Linked DNA regions of Homo sapiens: regions 1, 2, 4, 5, 6 and 7 are each linked to region 3. The links come from fine-mapping of genetic effects on plasma protein levels. Region 3 holds a variant in brackets. A gene starts in each other region. All regions are shown on their forward strands.

Region 1 (4,124 bases), not on the chromosome of region 3:
GCTCTCTCACTAGTCTTCTGGCCTTGCCACAAACTTGTTGCTCTCTGTCCCTGTCCCCTCTTCTCCTGGGCCTTGTCTCCCTCCTCTTTCCTATCTTGATTTCCACTGGAAACTATGCCTCCAGACCCACCTCTACCAGGTACCATTTACCGTTTTCCACCAGTTCTAGCCTGCAGCATGTAACCTGCACCAGGACACTTAATTTTTTTTTTTTTTTTTTGAGACGAACTCTCACTCTGTTGCCCACATTGGAGTGCAATGGCATGATCTCAGCTCATTGCAACCTCCATTTCCCAGGTTCAAGTGATGCTCCTGCCTCAGACTCCCAAGTAGCTGGGATTATAGGCACGCATCAGCACACCCAGCGAATTTCTGTGTTTTTAATAGAGACAAGGTTTTGCCATGTTGGCCAGGGTGGTCTCGAACTCCTGACCTCAGGTGATCCGCCTGTGTTGGCCTCCCAAAGTGCTGGGATAACAGGTGTGAGCCACCACGCCTAGCCTTTATTTTGTTTTATTTTTTATTTTTTTTGAGACGGAGTTTCACTCTTGTTGCCCAGGCTGGAGTGCAATGGCGCGATCTCGGCTCACCACAACCTCTGCCTCCCAGGTTCAAGTGATTCTTCCGCCTCAGCCTCCCAAGTAGCTGGGATTACAGGCATGCGCCACCACGTCCAGCTAATTTTGTATTTTTAGTAGAGACAGGGTTTCTCCACGTTGGTCAGGCTGGTCTCGAACTCCCAACCTCAGGAGATCTGCCCACCTCAGCCTCCCAAAGTGCTGGGATTACAGGCGTGAGCCACCACGCCCGGCCTATTTTATTTTTTTTGAAACAGTTTCTCTCTTGTCACCCAGGCTGGAGTGCAGTGGCGCGATCTCTACTCCTGCAAACTCCGCCTCCCGGGTTCAAGCGATTCTCCTGCCTCAGCCTCCGGAGTAACTGGGCTTACAGGCCTGCGCCACCTCACCTGGCTGATTCTTTCATTGTAATAGAACAGCTTTGTTGGGATATAATTCACACGGCACATACAGTTGACTCTTGAACAACACGGATTTGAACTCTGTGGGCCCACTCATAGGCAGCCTTTTGCCAACCAAAGGAGGATAGAAAATACAAAACTCGGTGATGCAAAAGCTGCATAAATTCAGGGGAAATTGTATGCCAAAATCCTGGCACCAATCCCCTGTGGTTACTGGGGGATAACTGTAATTCACTCTTTTTTTTCTCTTTTGTTAGGGATGAAGTCTCTCTGTGTTACCCAGGCTGGAGTGCAGTGGTGCGATCATACCTCACTGCAGCCTTGAACTCCTGGGCTCAAGCGATCGTCTAAACCTCCCCACCATGTACAACTCCACCAATTTAAAGGCTATAATTATAATTCAATGGTTTTTAGTATAGTCATAGATTATGCAACCATCACCACAATCAATTTTAGGATATTTTCATCACCCCAGAAAGGAACCCTGCACTCAACATGTCATTTAATTGTTAGCCACATTTTCAAGGTTATTCATCATAGCTGATGATTCCTGAGCTCTTACTTCACTGTGAGTTTATTAAAAGTGGGGATTGGCTGGGTCCAGTGACTCACACTTGTAATCCCAGCATTTTGGGAGGCTGAGGCGGGCAAATCACATGAGCTCAGAAGTTTAAGACCAGCCTGGCCAACCATGGTGAAATTCTACTAATAACACAAAAATTAGCTGAGCATGGTGGCATGTGCCTGTAATTCCAGCTACTTGGGAGGCTGAGGCAGGAAAATTGCTTGAACCCGGGAGGGGGAGGTTGCAGTGAGCCAAGATCGTGCCATTGCACTCTAGCCTGGGCAACAAGAAAGAAACTCCGTCTCAAAAAGAGAAAAAAAAAGTCAGGTTCTACCTGAAGCTCAGAGTCACACTTGTTAGTGTGCAGAGGTGGGGTTTCCAGGTTCCCATCCCAAGGCTCATCCTGGGGGTCTGCCCAGCACCCATCCTGTTGCATGACTGATGGGGCCCCAGAAAGTACGTCCGAGAAATACTCACATCACAGCCCGCTGGGAGCAGCTGTTACTGGTGAATTCATAGCTTCGCACCCAGGTCCAGGGAAGGGGCTTGTGGCTGTATTGGAAGCAGCAGGTCTTGGATATGTCACTCCCACCTAAAAATCAGGGAGAGGAAGGGTTTGGAGATACTCATTTCCATCCACTCCCAGGCGGTCCGGGAAGGAACCCCAGGAGGGGAATGGGCCAGCTACGTACGTGTGGCAGTTCCAAGGTGGAGACTCAGGAGGGAGGCCAGGAGCACAGCAGAGGCCAAGGAGAGGCCCATCATGATGCTGCAAATCAGGCCCTTCTCAGGTTTCTCCCAAACTCCTCCTGCCTGATCCCCTTTTATGAGACTGAGACGGCCCTGAAAACAATTCCAGAGAATTCTGTGGTTGGGAACAGAAGCAGCACTTTTGACCCAACAAAGGAAAAGTAAACTAATACTCATAGGAATGAAATTAGACAGTGAAGAAAGATAATCTGGCACTGGGCGTGGTGGCTCATGCCTGTGATCACAGCACTCTGGGAGACCGAGGTGGGCGGATCCCTTGAGGTCAGGAGTTCAAGATCAGCCTGGCCAACATGGAGAAACCCTGTCTCTACTAAAAACACAAAAATTGGCCGGGCATGGTGGCAGGCAACTGTAATCCCAGCTACTCCTGAGGGTGAGGCAGGAGAATCACTTGAACCTGGGAGGTGGAGGTTGCAGTGAGCTGAGATGGCACCACTGCACTGCAGCCTGGGCGACAGAGTGAGACTCTGCCAAAAAAAAAAAAAACAAACAAACAAACAACAAAAAAAAACAAGTGACAGATGGTAGAGATCCCTTTATTGAATTCCATCAACAGGGACAAAAAAAGAAGAGAATTTGGGAGAAGAGCAGGGGCAGGCAGGCCCCAGGGAGTCTGGTTCCCAGTGCTGTTGGCTGAGTCAACACTTTCTTGTTTAAAAAGAAAAAGCAGAGGAAATTAAGTAATATTCCAGTGAACTGAACTAAGTTACTTTATAGCACAATTGGTTGTTGAAGATAGGTTTCTGGCTCTTGGGCAAAGTTTTGTTTCCTTTCTAAGCATTGCTTATCTCTGTGTGGAGCTCTGGATGGTCTCAAGATGTGATCATAGAGTAGCCCAACCTCGACAATGGATATTTAAAAACAGGGTCCAGGCAGGTGCCAGCCCATCTTCTTGGGGCCACACCTGTAGGGCCAGGGCTGGCTGGGGGCATTTGAGAGATCTAACAGATCCCAAACCTGACAGATCATCACAATCACCCGAGGCTTAAAACAAAACAAAACAAACAAACAACAACAAATAATATATATATATAGTGAGAGAGAGGGCCTGGTCAACATGGTGAAACCCCGTCCCCACTAGAAATAAAAAAATTAGCCAGGCACGGTGGCGGGCACCTGTAATCCCAGCTACTAGGGAGGCTGAGGCAGGAGAATCGCTTGAATGCAGGAGGCAGAGGTTACAGTGAGCCGAGATCCCGCCATTGCACTCCAGCCTGGGCGACAGACCAAGACTGTCTCAAAAAAGAAAAAAAAATAGAGATGAGGTCTCTCTATGTGGCCCAGGTTGGTCTTAAACTCTTGGCTCAAGTGACTGTCTCACCTTGGCCTTCAAAAATGTTGGGATTACAGTGAGCCACCACGTCTGGCCATACCTGGTCAATTATTATTATTATTTTGTGTGTGTGTGTGGGGCCAGTCACAGTGGCTCACGCCTGTAATCCCAGCACTTTGGAAGGCAGAGGCAGGGGGATCGTCTGAGGTCAGGAGGTTGAGATCAGCCTGGCGAACATGGTGAAACCCCGTCTCTACTAAAAATACAAAAATTAGCCGGGCTAATTTTGTGGTGGCTCATGCTTGTAATCCGAGCAACTTGGGAGGCTGAGGCAGGAGAGTCACTTGAACCTGGGGGGCAGAGGTTGCAGTGAGCCAAGATCGTGCCATTGCACTCCAGCCTAAGAAAAAAGAGCAAAACTCTGTCACAAAAAAAAAGAAATTTGTAGAGCCCAAAGGTTGCCAGGCTGGTCTCAAACTCCTGGCTTCAAGGCGATCTGCTTACTCCAGCCTCCCAAAGCACTGGGATTATAGGGG
Region 2 (4,149 bases), not on the chromosome of region 3:
AACAGAGGAGAAGAACCTCAACTTAACTCTTCTCCCTGCTCTAATGTCCTCAGAAGCTCCCTTGTGCCTAAACCCAGTCAGAAGCTAGAAGGTCAGCAACCTCACTGATGTAACCCACCAAGATTGGCTTCCTAGGGCAGAGAATAGAATGGAAAAGAATGGAATGTGTGTCTGAAGGGACAAGCTTATAATATCCTTTTCTCAGGTGAGTCTTGACACATTTTTGTGTCAAAGTTAGGTAGGTCTCAAAATGAATTGAGTGGTGTACAATCTTTTGATATTCTCTGGAAGAGATTGCACAAGATTGAAATGACCACTTCCTTCAGTGCTTGGAGGAATTAGCTGTTTGTGCCCTTTGAGCCCAGAGAATGTTTTGTGGGAAGATTTTCAATTCCTGATTCCATTTCTTTAATAGCTTTAGAATGACTTTCTATTTTTTATTTATTTGTGCACCCTGGTCAGTTAGATTTTTAAGAAATTCATCCATTTCCTCTAAACTAAATTTTTGGCATAAGGTTCTTATCATTTTCTTTTTGGTGTCTGCAGGCTCTGCAACTGGTTATATGTACCTTTTTCCTTTTTTCTTTTCTTTTTTTTTTTTTCTGGGACAGAGTCCTACTCTGTCACTCAGACTGGGGTGCAGTGGTGCAATCTTGGCTCACTGTAACCTCGGCCTCCCAGGTTCAAGCAATTCTCCTGCCTCAGCCTCCCAAGTAGCTGGGATTACAGGCATGTGCCACCATGCCTGGGTAATTTTTGTATTTTTTTTAGTAAAGACAGGGTTTTACCATGTTGTCCAGGCTGCTCTAGAACTCTTGACCTCAAGTGATCCCCCCGCCTCAGCCCCTTTTTTCTTTTTTTTTTCATTTTCAGTTCAGGAGAGTTTTAGCTTAATTATAGGCTACAGAACCAGCTTTGGGCTTCATCTATCCTTTCTAATATTTACTGTTTCCTATTTCTCTAATCCTAGCTCTTTATTTCTTCCCTTTACTTTCACTGGGCTTATTTTGCTATAGTGGAATGCAGAGGGATGAGTATTCCAGGAAGGCACAAAAACTGTGCCAAGTCTTGGAGCTAGGGATGAGTGGGAAAGGGACATGTTCAACCATTTTAAGCCATTCCCTCCCCACCTCCCAGCTCCCAGATATGTGCCCCTCGCAGGAGGAGCCCAGGAATGGGCCAAACACCTCACTTCTTTGCTCTGAGGGCCACCCCAGCCCTCCCATCAACAGCTCTAGAAACCCAATGGTCCTTCCTGGAAACACGGGGCCTGCATCAATCAGAGGTGTTTGAACCATGTCCCTCTGGGCCTGAGGGGCAGAAGGGGACACAATATGTAATGTAAGGAGCCCCTGTCATCAGAAATCTGACTTAATCTGTTTCAGATATTAGACTTCCACATAAAAGTTGACTTGGAAAAAGACTTCTGCTGCTAAACAAAAGTTGAAACTGCCTTGGTGATAAAATATAAGCAGACCAGCTTTCTCTTCTAGCTTTCCCTCTCATTTCCCATAAGATTTTGGTCAAGTTATTTAATCTCTCTGCATCCGTTTCCTCTTCTATGAAATGGGCATGATAATAATGGTATGTACCTCCTCAAACTAAATATATAACGTGAACAGAGTCCTTAGCACAGCACTCTTTCTCTACAGGAGTTAATTTTCATTGTTTTTCTCTTTCCTGTTGGAGAAAGTAAGAAGAAAACAGCTCCTTTATGGCTTCCCATGGTGAATGGCTGGGGCGCGTCTGTGTCCCTTTCTCCTCTCTGGCTCCTTGTGGCCTGAACAGCCAGAAGGAAGCCATGCCATGCTGTTTCAGCCCTCAGCTTCCCTCTTGCATTTCCTAGAAAAGTCTTTGGTGCCCAGCTCCAGCTCAGCAGATTCAGGATCCCCCTTCATCATGACTTGGTCAACGCCCTGCTCAGGCCAAGGTCCTCTGAGAGTTCCAAGCTTCTCCACTCCCTATAAAAGGCCGGCGGAACAGCCAGAGGAGCAGAGAGGCAAAGAAACATTGTGAAATCTCCAACTCTTAACCTTCAACATGAAAGTCTCTGCAGTGCTTCTGTGCCTGCTGCTCATGACAGCAGCTTTCAACCCCCAGGGACTTGCTCAGCCAGGTAAGTCACCTCCCTTCGACTCTCCCTCTCTTTCCCTCTGTTTCTCTATTCAAGGAAGACCTAAGCCCGAGTGCTCCTCCACTTTTTTTTTAGATTGAGTCTCATTATGTTGCCCAGGCTGAAGTGCAGGGGTGCGATCTTGGCTCATTGCAACCTTCACCTCCCAGGTTCAAGCGATTCTCTTGCCTCAGCCTTCTGAGTAGCTGTGATTACAGGCACCCGCCATCACGTGCAGCTAATTTTTGTATTTTTAGTAGAGAAGGGGTTTCACTATGTTGGCCAGGCTGGTCTCAAACTCTTGACCTCAAGTGATCCTCCCGTCTCGGCCTCCCAAAGTGCTGGGATTACAGGCGTGAGCCACCAGGCCCAGCCAAGTGCCCCACTTCTAAGCCCACCAGAATAGTAAGGCTCCTCAGAGGTTCACTTTAACATCTAATTTTAAAGATAGAAAGCTGAAGCCCATGTTGGAGGCAGAAGGGACCCTAGCCATCCACCTCCAGGTTATTGCAGAGCAAGAATGAAACCTAAGCTTCTGACTCCAGATTTAGGGCCTTTTCTTTGACCTCATCTGATCGTCCCAAACTCTGCAGATCTGGGACCACACCCAGGACCTTTCCCACTGGCCTTGCCCGTGGCCTCCCCTAGATGGCTGTGACATGTCTCCACCATGCAGCTGAGCCTTTGAGATCCTGAGGCACATGTCACAGGTCCCACCTCACCTCAGGGTCTAGGGTGGGAGTGCTGGGCTTGGGGGTGAGTAAGATCTATTTCTTCCTCTTTGCTTTGCATCCCATACAGATGCTCCCTGCTGTATTCAAGCTGAGAAAAGCCTAACACATCCTCAAAGTCTTTTTCTTTGTAACTATTTCTAGATGCACTCAACGTCCCATCTACTTGCTGCTTCACATTTAGCAGTAAGAAGATCTCCTTGCAGAGGCTGAAGAGCTATGTGATCACCACCAGCAGGTGTCCCCAGAAGGCTGTCATGTGGGTAGAAAAATCCCTGCTCACCTGGCTCCTCCCCACTCCCACATTCCCCAATCCAAAGTTCTGCCCCAGGAGACAGACGTCAGACTGACTTGAGATCTTAGGATGAGATCTAGCCAGACTGTGTGATGCAAATCCTCCAATTTTGGCTGCACAACAGGTCCAAAGAGGACCTATAATTTCCCACACCTTGTTTCCTGGATGGGCACCAGCCCACACCCTTTAGCAGATGCCAGGATCAGTTTCCCAGGGGCAGCAAGAGCAGTGGCTGCCTCCAGAGACCCCTTCTGTCCACACACCTCCTACTTCCTGTCCTGGAGGGGTGCCCCTTCACCTGTAGTAGGTGGACCAGGCAGGTTTAGAACCCAGTGTGTCATCTCCTGGGTAAACCCTCAAAGGGTTCCATCTAACTGTGCCAGATCTCCTTCCTCCACAGCTTCAGAACCAAACTGGGCAAGGAGATCTGTGCTGACCCAAAGGAGAAGTGGGTCCAGAATTATATGAAACACCTGGGCCGGAAAGCTCACACCCTGAAGACTTGAACTCTGCTACCCCTACTGAAATCAAGCTGGAGTACGTGAAATGACTTTTCCATTCTCCTCTGGCCTCCTCTTCTATGCTTTGGAATACTTCTACCATAATTTTCAAATAGGATGCATTCGGTTTTGTGATTCAAAATGTACTATGTGTTAAGTAATATTGGCTATTATTTGACTTGTTGCTGGTTTGGAGTTTATTTGAGTATTGCTGATCTTTTCTAAAGCAAGGCCTTGAGCAAGTAGGTTGCTGTCTCTAAGCCCCCTTCCCTTCCACTATGAGCTGCTGGCAGTGGGTTTGTATTCGGTTCCCAGGGGTTGAGAGCATGCCTGTGGGAGTCATGGACATGAAGGGATGCTGCAATGTAGGAAGGAGAGCTCTTTGTGAATGTGAGGTGTTGCTAAATATGTTATTGTGGAAAGATGAATGCAATAGTAGGACTGCTGACATTTTGCAGAAAATACATTTTATTTAAAATCTCCTACACAGTGGTGTTTTCTTCAGGAGTA
Region 3 (4,149 bases):
CCTTTCTCTCTGCTGGCCAGCTCTGCCCCTCAGTGAGAAACTTTACATATTGCTAAGATGCCTGGCCAATGAAACAGTTCCAGAGACTTTATGTCCCCCAGTAGAAATATGAATAGAAATCACCCTGTGGGCAATGGTCCCATTTTAAAATATGCTGTCCCATTGTCCCCTAGAGCCTACTTTAACTTGTCAGACCATGTATTCCACTTCATATGCAAGAGGCATGCACTGAGCCCATAGGTGGCTAGGCAAACACCCAATAGCTCCCTGAAATGGCTTCATTATGCAGCCTCGACAGCCACCCCAACCCTCCCACTCTCACACTGAAACACCCAGACCTAGAGATAGCTAGACACACCCAGACACCCGCCAAGCCCCTCACATACAGATATGTGCACAATGATACACAGCAAACGTACACAGAGTTCAGTACACACAAAGAGCTCACGCCCACGTGCACACACCCCTCAGTTGGGACAGAGTTGACCACCACCACCTTTCTCCCAAACACATGGCTTTTGAACTGCCTTTCCTTGGATCCAGTTCAAGGGGATGGAGGAGCAGTGAGAGTCAGCCGCCCTTCCACTCCAATTTCCCAGCACCTCCCTTATCTCTGCCTCACAAGTCACCCAGCCCCCCTCTCTTCCTTCCTTGTGCTTGAAGAATCTCTCCTTGCTGGAAAGCCCCCTGTTTTCTCAATCTCCCTTTCCACTTCGGTAAAATCTCTACTTGCTGGAAAGCCCCCTGTTTTCTCAATCTCCCTTTCCACTTCGGTAAAATGCCCACTTTCTGGTCCCCACCTTTTTCCTGAGTGTAGTCCCAACCAGCCAAATCCAACCTCAAAACAGGAAGACCCAAGGCCAGTGACCCCCATAGGCCTGAGGCTTGTGCAGGCAGTGGGCGTGGGGTAAGGCTTCCTGATGCCCCCTGTCCCTGCCCAGAACCTGATGGCCCTCATTAGTCCTTGGCTCTTATCTTGGAAGCACAGGCGCTGACAGCCGTCCCAGCCCTTCTGTCTGCGGGCCTGAACCAAACGGTGCCATGGGGAACTGTCTGCACAGGGTGAGTATGGGGCCAGGCCCCAGAGTCCCTTATCCCTATGCCCCTCATTTCCCCTGCTGTTTGCCCCTCAGTCTTTATATCTCTTCCTTTTCCTCCTCATCTTTTCTCCCTTCCTGCTTTTTTCCTCTTCCTTCAAAGTCTTTTTCCTTCTCTCCTTCCTATGCTAGCCTCCTAGCTCCCTCTTGTGTCCCTCCCTTTGCCTTTGAGTCAGTTCCATCCTGGTCTCTTGGTGCCTTTTCCTTCTGACCTTGCACTGCTCCTCCAGCCCCAGCTGCCCTGGCTTCCCCAGGACTGTTCCTGCTCCGGCTCTTCAGGCTCCCTGCTTTGTCCTTTTCCACTGTCCGCACTGCATCTGACTCCTGCAGAGACCTTGTTCTCCCACCCGACCTTCCTCTCTGTCCTCCCCTCCCACCTGCCCCTCAATTCCCAGGAGACTCTTCCGGTGTAACTCTGATGGCCTCCTCTGGGTATGTCCTCCAGGCGGAGCTCTCCCCCTCAACTGAGAACTCAAGTCAGCTGGACTTCGAAGATGTATGGAATTCTTCCTATGGTGTGAATGATTCCTTCCCAGATGGAGACTATG[G/A]TGCCAACCTGGAAGCAGCTGCCCCCTGCCACTCCTGTAACCTGCTGGATGACTCTGCACTGCCCTTCTTCATCCTCACCAGTGTCCTGGGTATCCTAGCTAGCAGCACTGTCCTCTTCATGCTTTTCAGACCTCTCTTCCGCTGGCAGCTCTGCCCTGGCTGGCCTGTCCTGGCACAGCTGGCTGTGGGCAGTGCCCTCTTCAGCATTGTGGTGCCCGTCTTGGCCCCAGGGCTAGGTAGCACTCGCAGCTCTGCCCTGTGTAGCCTGGGCTACTGTGTCTGGTATGGCTCAGCCTTTGCCCAGGCTTTGCTGCTAGGGTGCCATGCCTCCCTGGGCCACAGACTGGGTGCAGGCCAGGTCCCAGGCCTCACCCTGGGGCTCACTGTGGGAATTTGGGGAGTGGCTGCCCTACTGACACTGCCTGTCACCCTGGCCAGTGGTGCTTCTGGTGGACTCTGCACCCTGATATACAGCACGGAGCTGAAGGCTTTGCAGGCCACACACACTGTAGCCTGTCTTGCCATCTTTGTCTTGTTGCCATTGGGTTTGTTTGGAGCCAAGGGGCTGAAGAAGGCATTGGGTATGGGGCCAGGCCCCTGGATGAATATCCTGTGGGCCTGGTTTATTTTCTGGTGGCCTCATGGGGTGGTTCTAGGACTGGATTTCCTGGTGAGGTCCAAGCTGTTGCTGTTGTCAACATGTCTGGCCCAGCAGGCTCTGGACCTGCTGCTGAACCTGGCAGAAGCCCTGGCAATTTTGCACTGTGTGGCTACGCCCCTGCTCCTCGCCCTATTCTGCCACCAGGCCACCCGCACCCTCTTGCCCTCTCTGCCCCTCCCTGAAGGATGGTCTTCTCATCTGGACACCCTTGGAAGCAAATCCTAGTTCTCTTCCCACCTGTCAACCTGAATTAAAGTCTACACTGCCTTTGTGAAGCGGGTGGTTTCTTATTTTGTCTGGGGAGAAGAAGGAGAATGGAGAGAGAGACATTTTTATGTCAGACTTTCTTGCCAGTGTCTGCTTCTATAGCTGGCTTGGGAAGAAGGTGAATGATGAATAAATACCCTCAGGGTACACAGATGTTCTCTTGAGGTGTGGGGTCACGGCCATCTCAAGGGAGAAGAGAAGAGGAACCAGAGCATGAGGGGAGTCATTAAACCAAAAAAAACAGAAGGGATGGCTTAGCTGGAAAAAAAGCTGTTCTGGGAAGCAAATGGAATAGGAACTCAAACTGAGAGATAAACAGTGAAGAGTGATGACAAAGCCCAGAGCAATACCACCTCCCCCTGTCCAACCTGCCCAGCCTCTGTCTTCTGTCTCCTCTCTGGCTTTGTTTAGTGATTAGGACAGTGGTGGGGAAGGTGAAAGAAGCATCCCAGGGGATGTTACTCAGTTCAGGGAACATATCAAGGTAATTTAAAAAGCCACTTCCTGGGAGTCATCTCTCCCAGGTTCCTCAGCATGACCTGAATGTGCGTGCGTGTGTGTGTGTGTGTGTGTGTACACATCTGTTTCTCGATCTGTTAGAATCTACCTTTATGTTAGATGTATGCATGTAAAAACATATGTCCACCCATGAGCTTGCATCTCTGTCAGCACCTGAACTGCGCACACCTGTGCGTGTGCACTGACTTTTCTCAGGACCCAAACCCCCACTCAATTCTGCACTCATCCCTGTTCACAGGATATAGAATCGGGATTTATGACTCACTCCTTACCCAAATGAGTTTTCTTTACCCTGGTTTTTAAGCCTAGTCTTTTCTGTGTAGGATGTGTGGAGGGAAGAAAAGATCAAGAAGTTGTGAAGGGTGGAGAAACTTGAAGGGGGAGGCCCTGATTTGATTCATCTTCTGCTTGGAATTCCCCGAATTTCCCTTTCAGAATCTCAGCTTTTGAAATAAACCTTTATTTCCCACATACATCTTTCCTTCCACCTTCCACACAATACCCCAATCCCCTGGGCACCTTTTTCCCAACCCCTGATTCTCTGGCTGCTTAATCATGACCTTTGAGATTTTTCTCAGTCTCTACCTACCCAAGTTTAGATGGCTGGAAGGACAGAAACCCCTCCTCATCAGGGGCACAGCTTTTACCACCAAGAGCAAATTCACCCTCTACCCAAGAGGCTACAAAACAGTTAGTTCCTACCTCTAACCCAACTAAAGGCTGGGGAAACTTGAGCAGATACGTTCTATCAGTTTGAACCCAATTACCATCTTACCATTTTCCAAAGATATGCTATACCTGGTTTCTTTACTAAAATGTTTCTGCTTGACTCTCTGGGCTTGGGAATAGTAGGCGAGTGCGGGAGAGGTGCAGAGATGAGTTAGAATAGCTTAGGCAGGAGGGTGCAAAAGGCTTAGGGAATTTTCCTGGGTGGGTGCCACGACAAGGCCTCTAAATCTCCCACCTCCTGTCTCTTAGCAACCACCAGGTTAGCTCCTGATTGGTTCGTCCTCAATTGAAAGGCGGGATTTAGGGACCGATTGAGACGCGGGAGAC
Region 4 (4,000 bases), not on the chromosome of region 3:
CCCACAACAGTCCCCAGAGTGTGATGTTCCCCTTCCTGTGTCCATGTGTTCTCCTTGTTCAATTCCCACCTATGAGTGAGAACATGCGGTGTTTGGTTTTTTGTCCTTGCGATAGTTTACTGAGAATGATGATTTCCAATTTCATCCACGTCCCTACAAAGGACATGAACTCATCCTTTTTTATGGCTGCATAGTATTCCATGGTGTATATGTGCCACATTTTCTTAATCCAGTCTATCATTGTTGGACATTTGGGTTGGTTCCAAGTCTTTGCTATTGTGAATAGTGCTGCAATAAACATTCGTGTGCATGTGTCTTTATAGCAGCATGATTTATAGTCCTTTGGGTATATACCCAGTAATGGGACGGCTGGGTCAAATGGTATTTGTAGTTCTAGATCCCTGAGGAATCGCCACACTGACTTCCACACTGGTTGAACTAGTTTACAGTCCCACCAACAGTGTAAAAGTGTTCCCATTTCTCCACATCCTCTCCAGCACCTGTTGTTTCCTGACTTTTTAATGATTGCCATTCTAACTGGTGTGAGATGGTATCTCATTGTGGTTTTGATTTGCATTTCTCTGATGGCCAGTGATGGTGAGCATTGTTTCATGTGTTTTTTGGCTGCATAAATGTCTTGAGAAGTGTCTGTTCATGTCCTTCATCCACTTTTTGATGGGGTTGTTTGTTTTTTTGTTGTAAATTTGTTTGAGTTCATTGTAGGTTCTGGATATTAGCCCTTTGTCAGATGAGTAGGTCGCGAAAATTTTCTCCCATTTTGTAGGTTGCCTGTTCACTCTGATGGTAGTTTCTTTTGCTGTGCAGAAGCTCTTGAGTTTAATTAGATCCCATTTGTCAATTTTGGCTTTTGTTGCCATTGCTTTTGGTGTTTTATACATGAAGACCTTGCCCATGCCTATGTCCTGAATGGGTAATGCCTAGGTTTTCTTCTAGGGTTTTTATGGTTTCAGGTCTAACGTTTAAGTCTTTAATCCATCTTGAATTAATTTTTGTATAAGGTGTAAGGAAGGGATCCAGTTTCAGCTTTCTACATATGGCTAGCCAGTTTTCCCAGCACCATTTATTAAATAGGGAATCCTTTCCCTATTGCTTGTTTTTCTCAGGTTTGTCAAAGATCAGATAGTTGTAGATATGCGGCATTATTTCTGAGGGCTCTGTTCTGTTCCATTGATCTATATCTCTGTTTTGGTACCAGTACCATGCTGTTTTGGTTACTGTAGCCTTGTAGTATAGTTTGAAGTCAGGTAGCGTGATGCCTCCAGCTTGGTTCTTTTGGCTTAGGATTGACTTGGCCATGCGGGCTCTTTTTTGGTTCCATATGAACTTTCAAGTAGTTTTTTCCAATTCTGTGAAGAAAGTCATTGGTAGCTTGATGGGGATGGTATTGAATCTATAAGTTACCTTGGGCAGTATGGCCATATTCACGATATTGATTTTTCCTACCCATGAGCATGGAATATTCTTCCATTTGTTTGTATCCTCTTTTATTTCATTGAGCAGTGGTTTGTAGTTCTCCTTGAAGAGGTCCTTCATGTCCCTTGTAAGTTGGATTCCTAGGTATTTTATTCTCTTTGAAGCAATTGTGAATGGGAGTTCACTCATGATTTGGCTCTCTGTTTGTTTGTTATTGGTGTATAAGAATGCTTGTGATTTTTGTGCATTGATTTTGTATCCTGAGACTTTGCTGAAGTTGCTTATCAGCTTAAGGAGATTTTGGGCTGAGACCATGTCTCTGTTTGTTTGTTATTGGTGTATAAGAATGCTTGTGATTTTTGTGCATTGATTTTGTATCCTGAGACTTTGCTGAAGTTGCTTATCAGCTTAAGGAGATTTTGGGCTGAGACCATGGGGTTTTCTAGATATACAATTATGTAATTTGCAAATAGGGACAATTTGACTTCCTCTTTTCCTAATTGAATACCCTTTATTTCCTTCTCCTGCCTAATTGTCCTGGCCATTGGAGAGGAGGAGCATCTCCCAGACAGCTGCGTGCCTCAGAGAAGCCAGCCTCGCTAACCCCTCAAGCCCAGGGGATGAGACCCTGCTGAATCGCTGCTCTATTTTGGCTGGAGCCACAGCTCCCTCCACCGCGGGGCGGGGCTAAAATGTCCTCCCCCTTAAGGGAGCAGGCAGCTCCTCCCAGCCACCCACCCCACCAATTCCCATCCTCCCGCCCCCCTCCACCAACCCCTTCTTTCCACACTGCCCCCTGAGTTCAGGGAATTTCCCCAGCATCCCAAAGCTTGAGTTTCCTGCCAGTCGGGAGGGATGAATGCAGATAAAGGGAGTGCAGAAGGCACGAGGAAACCAAAGTGCTCTGTATCCTCCAGTCTCCGCGCCTCCACCCAGCTCAGGAACCCGCGAACCCTCTCTTGACCACTATGAGCCTCCCGTCCAGCCGCGCGGCCCGTGTCCCGGGTCCTTCGGGCTCCTTGTGCGCGCTGCTCGCGCTGCTGCTCCTGCTGACGCCGCCGGGGCCCCTCGCCAGCGGTGAGAGCTCCTGGCACTGGGGTGCATCCCAGCCTCTGCGGGGCCGCTGCGTTCCAGGGAACTCTCCCAGCAACCTGCCCTATAAAAATGTCTTTCTTCCCCAGCTGGTCCTGTCTCTGCTGTGCTGACAGAGCTGCGTTGCACTTGTTTACGCGTTACGCTGAGAGTAAACCCCAAAACGATTGGTAAACTGCAGGTGTTCCCCGCAGGCCCGCAGTGCTCCAAGGTGGAAGTGGTGTAAGTTCTCCTGTGTTGCTGTGTCCACTGTGACTTAGGCAAGTCCTCCAGCCTGGGTCGTCAACCTTTGTGGCTCATGGGTGCATCCTCTTTTTCTTTACTTCAGAGCCTCCCTGAAGAACGGGAAGCAAGTTTGTCTGGACCCGGAAGCCCCTTTTCTAAAGAAAGTCATCCAGAAAATTTTGGACAGGTATTTGTCCCTTTGATCTTTGTGGTGTTTTAATATCTTCTATGGAAAGCATATACTTCACAATGTCCTTATTCTCTCTGTAGGATTTAGACTATGCTTAGAATTATAAGGTTGTTAAGAAGAATAAGGAAACTTTTTTTCTGGAATGTTCTGGGTAAACCTTTATCACCAATCTTACATGCCTGAACAATTACACAGAGCTCATTACTGACATCTATTTTTTGTCTGCTCTTTGCTTTTATTGATTTTTTTCCCCCACCAAACGCTTTTGAAAACCAAATGTAGCATACAAGAGTGTGGGAATTGGTTATACTAATATAACTCTTTTCTCAACAGTGGAAACAAGAAAAACTGAGTAACAAAAAAGACCATGCATCATAAAATTGCCCAGTCTTCAGCGGAGCAGTTTTCTGGAGATCCCTGGACCCAGTAAGAATAAGAAGGAAGGGTTGGTTTTTTTCCATTTTCTACATGGATTCCCTACTTTGAAGAGTGTGGGGGAAAGCCTACGCTTCTCCCTGAAGTTTACAGCTCAGCTAATGAAGTACTAATATAGTATTTCCACTATTTACTGTTATTTTACCTGATAAGTTATTGAACCCTTTGGCAATTGACCATATTGTGAGCAAAGAATCACTGGTTATTAGTCTTTCAATGAATATTGAATTGAAGATAACTATTGTATTTCTATCATACATTCCTTAAAGTCTTACCGAAAAGGCTGTGGATTTCGTATGGAAATAATGTTTTATTAGTGTGCTGTTGAGGGAGGTATCCTGTTGTTCTTACTCACTCTTCTCATAAAATAGGAAATATTTTAGTTCTGTTTCTTGGGGAATATGTTACTCTTTACCCTAGGATGCTATTTAAGTTGTACTGTATTAGAACACTGGGTGTGTCATACCGTTATCTGTGCAGAATATATTTCCTTATTCAGAATTTCTAAAAATTTAAGTTCTGTAAGGGCTAATATATTCTCTTCCTATGGTTTTAGACGTTTGATGTCTTCTTAGTATGGCATAATGTCATGATTTACTCATTAAACTTTGATTTTGTATGCTA
Region 5 (4,000 bases), not on the chromosome of region 3:
TTAAAAAAAAAAACTCTCAGCAAACTAGGAATAGAGGGATACTTCCTCAGCTTTATAGAGTGCATTAAAAAAGACCTACAGCAAATATCATACTTAATGGTGAGAAACTAGATATTTTTCTCCTAAGATTGAGTATAAGGCAAGGATGTTTCTTCTCACCACTCCAATTCAACATAATACTGGAAGGCCTAGCCAACACAACAGCACAAGACAAGAAAATAAAAATATATACAGATTAGAAAGAATAAATAAAACTGAATTTATTTGCAGAAGACATGATTGTCTGTGTAGAAAATTACAGAGAATCAGCAACAAAAAAAAGTCATGCCACTAATAAGCAATTTTAGCTACAGGATACAAGGCTAATAGATAAAATTCAATAACTTCCTGTATATCAGCAATGAGCAACTAGAATTTGAAATTAATACACAATACTATTTACATTAACACCAATAAAATGAAGTGTTTAGAAATTAGTCTAAGATGTACAATATATATGAGGGAAACTACAAACTTCTGATGAAAGATTAAAGACGATCTAAATAAATGAAGAGATATTCCACATGTATGGATAGGTGGAGTTAATGTTGTCAGCATGTCAGTTCTTCCCAACTTGATCTGTACCTTCAACACAATCCCAGTCCAAATCCCAGCAGGTTCTTTTTGGATGTGATAGACTGATTTTAATGTTTATATGGAAAGGTTAAAGATCTAGAATAGCTAACACAGTACTGAAAAAGAATAGTCAGAGGACTAACATTACCCAACTTCAAGATTTACTATTAGGAAACAGTAATCAAGACGGTGTGGTATTGGTGAAAGAATAGACAAATGGATCAATGGAACAGAATAGAGAGCCCTCAACAGATGAATGGATACATAAAATGTACTATATACATACAAGGGAATATTACTCAGCCTTAAGGATATGTAGCATATCATATGCTGCCACATAGATGAACCCTGAGATCCTTACGCTAAATGACATAAGCCAGTCACAAAAGAAAAATACTATATGATTTCACTCACATGAGGTAGTTAGAGCAGTCAAAATCAGAAACAGTAAGTAGAAATGGTGGTTGCCAGGGGCTTGGGGGAGGGGAAACTGGAGATCAATAGGTATAGAATTTCTGTTTACAGATGAAAAGAGTTATTGAGACTGTTGCACAACAGTGTGAATGTTCTTAATGCCACTAAACTATGCACTTAAAAATGGTTAAGATGGTATGTGCATTTTTACCACAATAAAAATAATAAATGAATAAAGAACAAAGGAAGTAATTAGCTATCAAACCACAACAAGGCACGGAGAAACCTTAAATGCATATTGCTTAGTGAAAGAAGCCAGTCTGAAAAGGCTGCCTACTATATGATTCCAACTATGCATATGATACTTGGGAAAAGACAAGCTCACAGAGATAGTAAAAAGATCAGTGGTAGCCAGAGATTTGTGGAGAGGAAAAAGGATGAATAGAAGAATACAGTGAATTCTTAGAGCAGGAAAACTTCTATATGATATTGTAATGATGGATAGATCAGGCCTGCAGGGGGAGTAGATGAGGTCAGTCTTTTGCAAACCTGGTTCCTTCTTGCCACGCCCCGCCCACAGCCCCACTGTGTGTGAACCAAGAGAGTTGGAAGGCCTTCTGCAGACGGACCCATTCCACCTGAATCTCCATGACATATTGGACTTCTCCATATAATTTCATTTGGAAAGAAACTTGAGCATCTAAATAAAATGTTTGGAAACCACCATGCTACAAGACCAGCATGTGCTGTCTAGTTCTTACCCTCTGCAACAGTAAGATTCTGGGGCATTAAGACTTAGTTCCAGGATTCTGTCATTCTGCCAACGTTCTGTGGCTGGGGTTCTAAAGGAGCTTGCCTGGCTTAGAACTGCAAGTGACTCTAGTGTGATGGAGAGCACCAGCAAAGCCTTAGGGCCCATCCCTGGCCTCCTGTTACCCACAGAGGGGTAGGCCCTTGGCTCTCTTCCACTATGACGTCAGCTTCCATTCTTCCTTTCTTATAGACAATTTTCCATTTCAAGGAAATCAGAGCCCTTAATAGTTCAGTGAGGTCACTTTGCTGAGCACAATCCCATACCCTTCAGCCTCTGCTCCACAGAGCCTAAGCAAAAGATAGAAACTCACAACTTCCTTGTTTTGTTATCTGGAAATTATCCCAGGATCTGGTGCTTACTCAGCATATTCAAGGAAGGTCTTACTTCATTCTTCCTTGATTGTGACCATGCCCAGGCTCTCTGCTCCCTATAAAAGGCAGGCAGAGCCACCGAGGAGCAGAGAGGTTGAGAACAACCCAGAAACCTTCACCTCTCATGCTGAAGCTCACACCCTTGCCCTCCAAGATGAAGGTTTCTGCAGCGCTTCTGTGCCTGCTGCTCATGGCAGCCACTTTCAGCCCTCAGGGACTTGCTCAGCCAGGTAAGACCTCTCCCTTTTTAAGGGGAGACCAAAAGAGGAATTAAGAAGAGCCATTATGTCACAGCTCATTAGGAACAAAACCAGAACTAAAGGCTCAGGTCACTGAGGCTGGTTCCCTTGATCTTTCCTGACCCCAGTTTTGGGAGGAGACAGTGGAGCCGCTACAGCAACAACCCTCCCATTGTTTGGGGAAATAATCCAGAACGAAGAACTGTTTCTCACTGTGGGTGTAAAGGACATTTCAGGCCGTAGTGGAGAGGGAGAAACTATTGCCTGAAGCTTCAAATTTTGGTTATGGTTCAGTGTACCTTCCAGAACAGTGGCTGTGTAAAGAGGATGAGGACCCAGAGGAATCTCAGCGTATGGCATAGGCTAACTCTAAAGCCCATGAGGATGAAAGACTGGGAAGCAAGGTATTGGAACTTATGTTCCCAGTGTCAGAAGTTTTGGGTTAGTAGACAAGGACTAGCTTGTTACTCAAAATGTTTCCAAACCCAGTCAACAATGACGGGCCGCAGAGTTCAATAGAGGAAAGAGACTCACAGGCAACATTTTATCTCTGGGATCTGGACTAAGACACTGAACTTGGGATGGTGACTTCTTGGTCTTCTCCTTCCTTCTCTTCTTTTCCTTACAAATGCACACTTACGGTGGGTCCTAAATGTCTCATTCTTTGCAAAATTTCTTTCAGATTCAGTTTCCATTCCAATCACCTGCTGCTTTAACGTGATCAATAGGAAAATTCCTATCCAGAGGCTGGAGAGCTACACAAGAATCACCAACATCCAATGTCCCAAGGAAGCTGTGATGTGAGTGGACAGTGCCTGGCACCCCCATTCAAAAGTTCTGATGGACAACATAGAGAAGTCAAGATTCATGTCCATATGAGTCGGATGCATATAACTTCTATCCAAAGGGCCCCTCTACCCCATAGAGAAACTCAGTCCATGAGAAGGAGTCCATAACTGCTCTAGGATTCCCTTCTAGGGGCTTGGTGAAACTAACCCAATATCTGTAGCCAGGACCCTGGAGGGTTTCACCTGGACAGCAAGAGCAGAGCTTCCTTCTGGAGCTTCTTCCTCCCACTCTTCCCCTCCCTCCTCTCCCGGGTCCGGGTCCTTCACCTAAGGACCAAGGGCTGATCAGTTCTAGGGACCAATGGCCCACAGTCCTGTGCAGGATCTTCAAAGTCTTCCATCTAATTGTGCCCTCTCTCCCCCACAGCTTCAAGACCAAACGGGGCAAGGAGGTCTGTGCTGACCCCAAGGAGAGATGGGTCAGGGATTCCATGAAGCATCTGGACCAAATATTTCAAAATCTGAAGCCATGAGCCTTCATACATGGACTGAGAGTCAGAGCTTGAAGAAAAGCTTATTTATTTTCCCCAACCTCCCCCAGGTGCAGTGTGACATTATTTTATTATAACATCCACAAAGAGATTATTTTTAAATAATTTAAAGCATAATATTTCTTAAAAAGTATTTAATTATATTTAAGTTGTTGATGTTTTAACTCTATCTGTCATACATCCTAGTGAATGTAAAATGCAAAATCCT
Region 6 (4,000 bases), not on the chromosome of region 3:
TTGATTCTGGGATTCTATGAGTGATGCTGATATGACTAAGCCAGGAGAGACTTATTTAAAGATCTCAGCATCTTTCAGCTTGTTAACCTAGAGAAAACCCGAAGCATGACTGGATTATAAAGGGAAATTGAATGCGGTCCACCAAGTTCATGGTAAAGGATGCACTAACTGATTAGAGAGAGGTTTCCCCTGATATGAGGAAAACTTCTTGGAAGATGAGGTGAGATGGCCTAGGAAGAAATTCCTACACAAAGTTGCACAGTCTCTAGTCCTGGAAACATTTTATTCATTGGATAAGAATGGATTGAGGCATGAGCAGAGGACTGAGACAAACACAGAGAAGTTTCAACACTGGTTGGGGAGAAAAGGAGTAACTAGTGAGATTCAGGCAGAACAAGAATAAGGCTCCTCAAGAGGCACAAGCAAAGCAGGGCTCGAGTTGATTTGTTCTCTCTTCATCCTGCTTTTTGTAATTCCACCAGAGTCTGAAATGGCCACTCCATAGAGTCTCTGCTCTGGGATTCTCCAGGAAACCAATATCCATCATGAGACATCAAGTCTAGTCCCAGGAAGAAGAGATTCTGGAATGGAAACATCCTGGGTGGGAGTCTCAGCACATCTACTATTCTGTCTGAGTTACTGGACAAATAACTTCAGTTTTAACCTAACGAAAGCTGGGTTGGTTGGAGGACTGGGCAGGCAGCGCTGGAAAGTATGTCAGCACCATACCTGACTCCCTGAATGCACTCAACAATGCCATTACTGACCACTTACTAGAAATAAAACAGTCATTTGTTGAATACAACCCGTTTCTTTTTACAAGTGTAGTGAAAAGTGTTTTCTTTCAAGAAACCCCATGCATTTATAGACATTGCCTCAGTGACCCTTTATGAAAGAAGTCACTAGTCTTTGTATGCCCATTGGGCAAGGGCACCGCAAGGCTCAGAAGGAGGAGGCAGTGGGCTAGGAGAATCGAGAGATCAGAATTTTAAACTCAGCCCAGCCATTAACATGCCTCAAGTACTCCTATCATATTTGTAAGAGACAACAGTTCACTGAAATGAATTCTAAGGTCTTTGGGTTTTTATCAGTGTGCTTCTGTAGTTTCTGAGGAAATCTAAGGCACAACTGAGGAATGAAGTCAGGCTTTCCAATTCCCGAAATACTCCTCCACTGCTTACTCATGTCCCTTGGAAATTAAGAAGGAAGCCAGGAGAATAGCTGCCATAACCAGGGATGAACTTCTTGTCCACTGCTGCCTGCTATGCTAGCAACAGCCTCCTAACTCATAATGACTTAGCCATGAGGAATGTTTCTAGATTCTCCTTTAGCTGTCTGCCCATTTGGAAGATGCTGAGGACAGAGAGAGGACCCAAGCAGGCAACTAGTTGGAGGACTTGTACACGTTTCCTTCCAGCAGTATGTCAGAGAGGTGGCAGCCCACTGGGGACAGGGCTGCCTGGGTTCTGTGCTCGAGGGGACCTTGAGCAGGCTATTTAACCCTTCTGTGCCTCAGTTGCCTGATCTATAACATGAAAATTAGCAATCCCTACTAGATAAAGTTGGGGAATTTACAGAGTTAATATTTGTAAAGGTCTGAGAATATTCCTGGCAGAGTAAGCACTCTGTGAGTATGACACTGGCATTTCTTCTGCAGCACTACATGCTGTCTATGCCTTTGTCCAAGTCTGAAACCCTAGAACTCTTAGAATTCAGTTCAATGTTTACACAATCCTACAGTTCTGCTAGGCTTCTATGATGCTACTATTCTGCATTTGAATGAGCAAATGGATTTAATGCATTGTCAGGGAGCCGGCCAAAGCTTGAGAGCTCCTTCCTGGCTGGGAGGCCCCTTGGAATGTGGCCTGAAGGTAAGCTGGCAGCGAGCCTGACATGCTTTCATCTAGTTTCCTCGCTTCCTTCCTTTTCTGCAGTTTTCGCTTCAGAGAAAGCAGAATCCTTAAAAATAACCCTCTTAGTTCACATCTGTGGTCAGTCTGGGCTTAATGGCACCCCATCCTCCCCATTTGCTCATTTGGTCTCAGCAGTGAATGGAAAAAGTGTCTCGTCCTGACCCCCTGCTTCCCTTTCCTACTTCCTGGAAATCCACAGGATGCTGCATTTGCTCAGCAGATTTAACAGCCCACTTATCACTCATGGAAGATCCCTCCTCCTGCTTGACTCCGCCCTCTCTCCCTCTGCCCGCTTTCAATAAGAGGCAGAGACAGCAGCCAGAGGAACCGAGAGGCTGAGACTAACCCAGAAACATCCAATTCTCAAACTGAAGCTCGCACTCTCGCCTCCAGCATGAAAGTCTCTGCCGCCCTTCTGTGCCTGCTGCTCATAGCAGCCACCTTCATTCCCCAAGGGCTCGCTCAGCCAGGTAAGGCCCCCTCTTCTTCTCCTTGAACCACATTGTCTTCTCTCTGAGTTATCATGGACCATCCAAGCAGACGTGGTACCCACAGTCTTGCTTTAACGCTACTTTTCCAAGATAAGGTGACTCAGAAAAGGACAAGGGGTGAGCCCAACCACACAGCTGCTGCTCGGCAGAGCCTGAACTAGAATTCCAGCTGTGAACCCCAAATCCAGCTCCTTCCAGGATTCCAGCTCTGGGAACACACTCAGCGCAGTTACTCCCCCAGCTGCTTCCAGCAGAGTTTGGGGATCAGGGTAATCAAAGAGAGGGTGGGTGTGTAGGCTGTTTCCAGACACGCTGGAGACCCAGAATCTGGTCTGTGCTTCATTCACCTTAGCTTCCAGAGACGGTGACTCTGCAGAGGTAATGAGTATCAGGGAAACTCATGACCAGGCATAGCCTATTCAGAGTCTAAAAGGAGGCTCATAGTGGGGCTCCCCAGCTGATCTTCCCTGGTGCTGATCATCTGGATTATTGGTCCGTCTTAATGACACTTGTAGGCATTATCTAGCTTTAACAGCTCCTCCTTCTCTCTGTCCATTATCAATGTTATATACCCATTTTACAGCATAGGAAACTGAGTCATTGGGTCAAAGATCACATTCTAGCTCTGAGGTATAGGCAGAAGCACTGGGATTTAATGAGCTCTTTGTCTTCTCCTGCCTGCCTTTTGCTTTTTCCTCATGACTCTTTTCTGCTCTTAAGATCAGAATAATCCAGTTCATCCTAAAATGCTTTTTCTTTGTGGTTTATTTTCCAGATGCAATCAATGCCCCAGTCACCTGCTGTTATAACTTCACCAATAGGAAGATCTCAGTGCAGAGGCTCGCGAGCTATAGAAGAATCACCAGCAGCAAGTGTCCCAAAGAAGCTGTGATGTGAGTTCAGCACACCAACCTTCCCTGGCCTGAAGTTCTTCCTTGTGGAGCAAGGGACAAGCCTCATAAACCTAGAGTCAGAGAGTGCACTATTTAACTTAATGTACAAAGGTTCCCAATGGGAAAACTGAGGCACCAAGGGAAAAAGTGAACCCCAACATCACTCTCCACCTGGGTGCCTATTCAGAACACCCCAATTTCTTTAGCTTGAAGTCAGGATGGCTCCACCTGGACACCTATAGGAGCAGTTTGCCCTGGGTTCCCTCCTTCCACCTGCGTTCCTCCTCTAGCTCCCATGGCAGCCCTTTGGTGCAGAATGGGCTGCACTTCTAGACCAAAACTGCAAAGGAACTTCATCTAACTCTGTCCTCCCTCCCCACAGCTTCAAGACCATTGTGGCCAAGGAGATCTGTGCTGACCCCAAGCAGAAGTGGGTTCAGGATTCCATGGACCACCTGGACAAGCAAACCCAAACTCCGAAGACTTGAACACTCACTCCACAACCCAAGAATCTGCAGCTAACTTATTTTCCCCTAGCTTTCCCCAGACACCCTGTTTTATTTTATTATAATGAATTTTGTTTGTTGATGTGAAACATTATGCCTTAAGTAATGTTAATTCTTATTTAAGTTATTGATGTTTTAAGTTTATCTTTCATGGTACTAGTGTTTTTTAGATACAGAGACTTGGGGAAATTGCTTTT
Region 7 (4,000 bases), not on the chromosome of region 3:
ATTAGAGTGAGCTGGGAAGACTCCATAAATAAGGAGATAGAAAGTAGGCCAACTCTTCACCAATTTCTGGAGCTGGGAGTAAAAACAATTTGAAAAAGAGATAATCGAGAGAATGAGTAGCCTGAGCAAAGTCATAGGGGTAAGATAAAACGACATAAAGCTAAAACCAGAATCAAAGCCTTGCATTGCTCCCAAATTAATATTCAAAGTTGTATAATGCTCAATTCCCCCATTGAATAATTTTCCTTTTTTGCATTCCATGTCCATGATCCATGGCCCAGTTATAGGCATGAGGACCCCACCCATGGTCTCTCATCAAACCCCTTTTCACTGATATGGAAGGCGATTAGTTGGTGATTTTGTAATGTGTATGTGAGATGAGGAGCTAGTTGTATGTGAGATGAGGAGCTAGATTAGTGGTTTCCAAAATTTATTCTTTGTATTTCTGAGATATGTGTGTGGGAAGAATGACAAGAAGTCTCTTGTCTCTGATTCAAACTGAAGGTCTCTGATTTTGTCGATAAATTTGCCTTCCCTATATTCTTTTACTTGGAAAAATATTTTCACAGCTCATTAGATGTTTTAGAAACACAGTATTTTAAGATCTTGATATGCTGTGCAGTTCCGATAGCCTATAAAACAAATAGTGGTTTTAAAACATATCCTCAAATTATTTTACACTCTTCCCATTAAGAGGTATGACTATGTTCCCTAACCTTGCACCTGGGATCCTTAAGCCATCATGCAAAATATCTAGCCATGTGGAGGGACCACTGGAAAGATCACACACACACACACACACACACACACACACACACACATACAGAGAGAGAGAGAGACACCTGAGAAATTCCATCTGGTCCAACTGCTGGCTGTTGAAGTCCTCCCAGCCCAGACCCCAGACACTGAATGAAGGCCTTGTGATATAGTCAAGAGCAAAAAAACCCAGAAGATTGTTATTGTTTTAAGTCACTGTTTTCAGATAGATTGCTATGCAGCAATAGATTATTGAAATAGACACTACAATTTTAGGTACTATTATTCTAAGAATATTGAATTTTATTTTTCTGCTAATGTTCTATTATTTTACTTTTCTCTGGGTTTTAGAAAGCCACCAGGATTTAAGACAGTGAAGAATCTTTGAGTCCTTTGTAGAGTTGAACCAAAGTTTGAATGTCTCTTTGTGGACTCGTGTCCTAGGGATACCACTCCAAAGGGAAAAGGGGAATATCCCTTACATATCTTTGACTTTGGTATCCCTGATTCCTTCCTTTTTCTATAGAATGTGTCTCATTTCAGAGAAACTGGTCTCTTGATAATAGCCATAGATTACATACTGTGGTCTTCCTCTACATAGACCCTACCTCACCTACCACTCCTGGTCTTAGCTGAAAAACAGGCTAGCCTCGACTCATACTGTCATTTCCTATCCTCCCACTGAAGTGCACTGGCTCAGCAGATTTATTACTCCATAGATTTATTACTCCATTCTATGATTCATCCTCTCTGCTTCCTATAAAAGGCAGAGACAGAGCTTCCAGAGGAGCAGAGGGGCTGAGACCAAACCAGAAACCTCCAATTCTCATGTGGAAGCCCATGCCCTCACCCTCCAACATGAAAGCCTCTGCAGCACTTCTGTGTCTGCTGCTCACAGCAGCTGCTTTCAGCCCCCAGGGGCTTGCTCAGCCAGGTAAGGTCCCTCTCTCCTTCTCCTTGAAGCACATTGCCCCCTCTCTGGGTTATCCTGGACCAATCAAGAAGACCTGATACCCACAGTCTCACTTTAACAGCTACTTTTCCAAGATAAGGTAACTTAGAAAAAGGATAAGGGGTGAGCCCAACCACACAGCTGCTGTTGGGTAGAGCCTGAACTAGAATTCCAGCTGTGAACCCCAAATCCAGCTCCTTCTAGGATTCCAGCTCTGGGAACACCCTCAGTGCAGTTACCACTCCAGCTGCTTCCAGCAGAATTTGGGATCAGGGTGATCAAAGACAGGAGGCTTCTGGGGATGGGTGTGCGGGCTGTTTCCAGATACCGGGAGACCCAGAATCTGGTCTGTGGAAGCCCAGCTTCCAGAAACAGCAGCTCTGCAGAGGTGGTACGTATCAGGGAAACTCATGACCAAGCATTGAATGCTCAGAGCCTAAAAGGGGATCCATAGTTGGGGTACCCTTGCTCTAAGGAATTGGATTATTATATTAGCCCCTCCTAGCAATGCCCAGAGTAGCCATCAATTCCTCTTCCGTCTTTCAACTGGTGATGGTGCATCCCTATTTCACAGTCCATAAAAGTGAAAGGGAGTTTATGAAATGCCTCAAAGGGCAGAGACATTGGGTTTGGGATGGGCAGCTTTTCCCTCCACCTCTTCCTTTCTTTCTGATTCCTTCTTCTTACCATTCCCTGTTTTACAAACAGAAAGACCCAGGACACACCCTCAATGGACTTTTCTTCTTGTTGTTTCATTGCAGTTGGGATTAATACTTCAACTACCTGCTGCTACAGATTTATCAATAAGAAAATCCCTAAGCAGAGGCTGGAGAGCTACAGAAGGACCACCAGTAGCCACTGTCCCCGGGAAGCTGTAATGTATGTGGACGATGACCACCCACCCCTCACACCTCAGTCCTAGGTTCTTCCCTGGGCAGGGAATAGGACTAGTATCAGAATGAGTTGGAGTCAAATACTGTGATGCATACAGCATCTCTAACCTTATCCCAGACATTTGCCAGTGAGAAACAATACAAGTAAAGAAAGTGGCTTCTCACTCTCAGCTCCCTTTCCAGCTATCATTTTACATCTCAGTTCGTTCCTTCATCCTGGAACCAAGAGAGATTCACTTGGGCTACCAAAAAGAGCTGCTTCTCTGAGTCCCCTTCCTTTGTTTTATCTTCTTCCTTCATCCCTGAGGCATCCCCATCAGCTAGGCTGATGGGCTAGACAGATTTCCCATAGACTTGGTCACACTCCCAGGCTGAACCCTCAAGGTGTTCCATCTGACTGTCTCCTTTCTGCTCCACAGCTTCAAGACCAAACTGGACAAGGAGATCTGTGCTGACCCCACACAGAAGTGGGTCCAGGACTTTATGAAGCACCTGGACAAGAAAACCCAAACTCCAAAGCTTTGAACATTCATGACTGAACTGAAAACAAGCCATGACTTGAGAAACAAATAATTTGTATACCCTGTCCTTTCTCAGAGTGGTTCTGAGATTATTTTAATCTAATTCTAAGGAATATGAGCTTTATGTAATAATGTGAATCATGGTTTTTCTTAGTAGATTTTAAAAGTTATTAATATTTTAATTTAATCTTCCATGGATTTTGGTGGGTTTTGAACATAAAGCCTTGGATGTATATGTCATCTCAGTGCTGTAAAAACTGTGGGATGCTCCTCCCTTCTCTACCTCATGGGGGTATTGTATAAGTCCTTGCAAGAATCAGTGCAAAGATTTGCTTTAATTGTTAAGATATGATGTCCCTATGGAAGCATATTGTTATTATATAATTACATATTTGCATATGTATGACTCCCAAATTTTCACATAAAATAGATTTTTGTATAACAGCTGCCATTCATGGTTTTTTAAAAGGATAAAGTAATAAAGCTGGTGGGGGTAACAGGGTGACAAGGTGAAGGGCGTGGTTGCAGAGGTTGGGCTCACATTGTGGAGAAATGAGCGCGTAATGGACTCTGGGCTTTCCCCCAGGCCAGGCTCACCTGCATGTTAGGGAGAGGCAGCCACAGGCTGGGGCCAGATGAACCCACCCCCCAGCTCCAGATCTGACATCTGCTTCAGCCACTTGTTCAAATACCTTTCTTTTTTCCCAAACTCATTCTTTTTCTCACCATCCCACGCTCTACCCAAAAGCCTGTCCCCTCTTCTATTCTATCAGCCTTGTGACTGGCTGGTTTTCCCCCTTCTAATCAATCCTCTAGTCTAGTAAATACAAATGTCACTTTCATTAAAAAATCAAGTAGGAGACCAACAGATGATTTGG

Alleles and levels. Alleles are on the strand shown, and positions count from the first base shown. The strength of an association depends on the size of the effect and on how common the allele is.
For the plasma level of the protein whose gene starts at base 2,344 in region 1, G is the low allele of the variant in region 3 and A is the other (moderate association).
As copies of A replace G in region 3, the plasma level of the protein whose gene starts at base 1,994 in region 2 goes up (strong association).
For the plasma level of the protein whose gene starts at base 2,330 in region 4, A is the high allele of the variant in region 3 and G is the other (moderate association).
In carriers of allele G in region 3, the plasma level of the protein whose gene starts at base 2,302 in region 5 tends to be higher than with A alone (strong association).
For the plasma level of the protein whose gene starts at base 2,243 in region 6, allele G in region 3 goes with a lower level than allele A (strong association).
With allele A in place of G in region 3, the plasma level of the protein whose gene starts at base 1,545 in region 7 is lower (strong association).

Evidence for each region. PIP is the posterior inclusion probability: the model's chance that the variant is causal. The UK Biobank Pharma Proteomics Project read protein levels with antibody pairs (Olink). The fine-mapping took linkage between variants from a reference panel, not from the people measured, so its PIPs are less certain.
Region 1: it holds the start of CCL26, and the variant in region 3 is fine-mapped to the plasma level of the CCL26 protein (UK Biobank, PIP above 0.99).
Region 2: it holds the start of CCL13, and the variant in region 3 is fine-mapped to the plasma level of the CCL13 protein (UK Biobank, PIP above 0.99).
Region 4: it holds the start of CXCL6, and the variant in region 3 is fine-mapped to the plasma level of the CXCL6 protein (UK Biobank, PIP above 0.99).
Region 5: it holds the start of CCL8, and the variant in region 3 is fine-mapped to the plasma level of the CCL8 protein (UK Biobank, PIP above 0.99).
Region 6: it holds the start of CCL2, and the variant in region 3 is fine-mapped to the plasma level of the CCL2 protein (UK Biobank, PIP above 0.99).
Region 7: CCL7 starts here. The variant in region 3 is fine-mapped to the plasma level of the CCL7 protein (UK Biobank, PIP above 0.99).

The regions. Positions count from the first base shown.
Region 1 is chr7:75,769,868-75,773,991 of GRCh38, forward strand. CCL26 (C-C motif chemokine ligand 26) reads right to left here and starts at 2,344. Exons shown (of 3, transcript NM_001371938.1): 1 at 2,237-2,344; 2 at 2,022-2,136. The coding sequence starts at 2,309. RefSeq lists a silencer at 2,864-3,158.
Region 2 is chr17:34,354,487-34,358,635 of GRCh38, forward strand. It overlaps CCL13 (C-C motif chemokine ligand 13), which reads left to right and starts at 1,994. Exons shown (of 3, transcript NM_005408.3): 1 at 1,994-2,116; 2 at 2,989-3,103; 3 at 3,540-4,124. The coding sequence starts at 2,041. The coding sequence ends at 3,645.
Region 3 is chr1:159,203,919-159,208,067 of GRCh38, forward strand. It overlaps ACKR1 (atypical chemokine receptor 1 (Duffy blood group)), which reads left to right and starts at 957. Exons shown (of 2, transcript NM_002036.4): 1 at 957-1,062; 2 at 1,543-2,582. The coding sequence starts at 1,042. The coding sequence ends at 2,532. The variant G/A (reference allele first, on the strand shown) is at 1,646.
Region 4 is chr4:73,834,349-73,838,348 of GRCh38, forward strand. It overlaps CXCL6 (C-X-C motif chemokine ligand 6), which reads left to right and starts at 2,330. Exons shown (of 4, transcript NM_002993.4): 1 at 2,330-2,511; 2 at 2,616-2,748; 3 at 2,855-2,938; 4 at 3,275-4,000. The coding sequence starts at 2,403. The coding sequence ends at 3,293. RefSeq lists a silencer at 2,304-2,598.
Region 5 is chr17:34,317,134-34,321,133 of GRCh38, forward strand. It overlaps CCL8 (C-C motif chemokine ligand 8), which reads left to right and starts at 2,302. Exons shown (of 3, transcript NM_005623.3): 1 at 2,302-2,444; 2 at 3,136-3,253; 3 at 3,669-4,000. The coding sequence starts at 2,369. The coding sequence ends at 3,774.
Region 6 is chr17:34,253,043-34,257,042 of GRCh38, forward strand. It overlaps CCL2 (C-C motif chemokine ligand 2), which reads left to right and starts at 2,243. Exons shown (of 3, transcript NM_002982.4): 1 at 2,243-2,383; 2 at 3,180-3,297; 3 at 3,680-4,000. The coding sequence starts at 2,308. The coding sequence ends at 3,785. RefSeq lists enhancers at 1-21, 965-1,939, 1,940-2,914.
Region 7 is chr17:34,268,677-34,272,676 of GRCh38, forward strand. It overlaps CCL7 (C-C motif chemokine ligand 7), which reads left to right and starts at 1,545. Exons shown (of 3, transcript NM_006273.4): 1 at 1,545-1,690; 2 at 2,470-2,587; 3 at 3,021-3,566. The coding sequence starts at 1,615. The coding sequence ends at 3,126.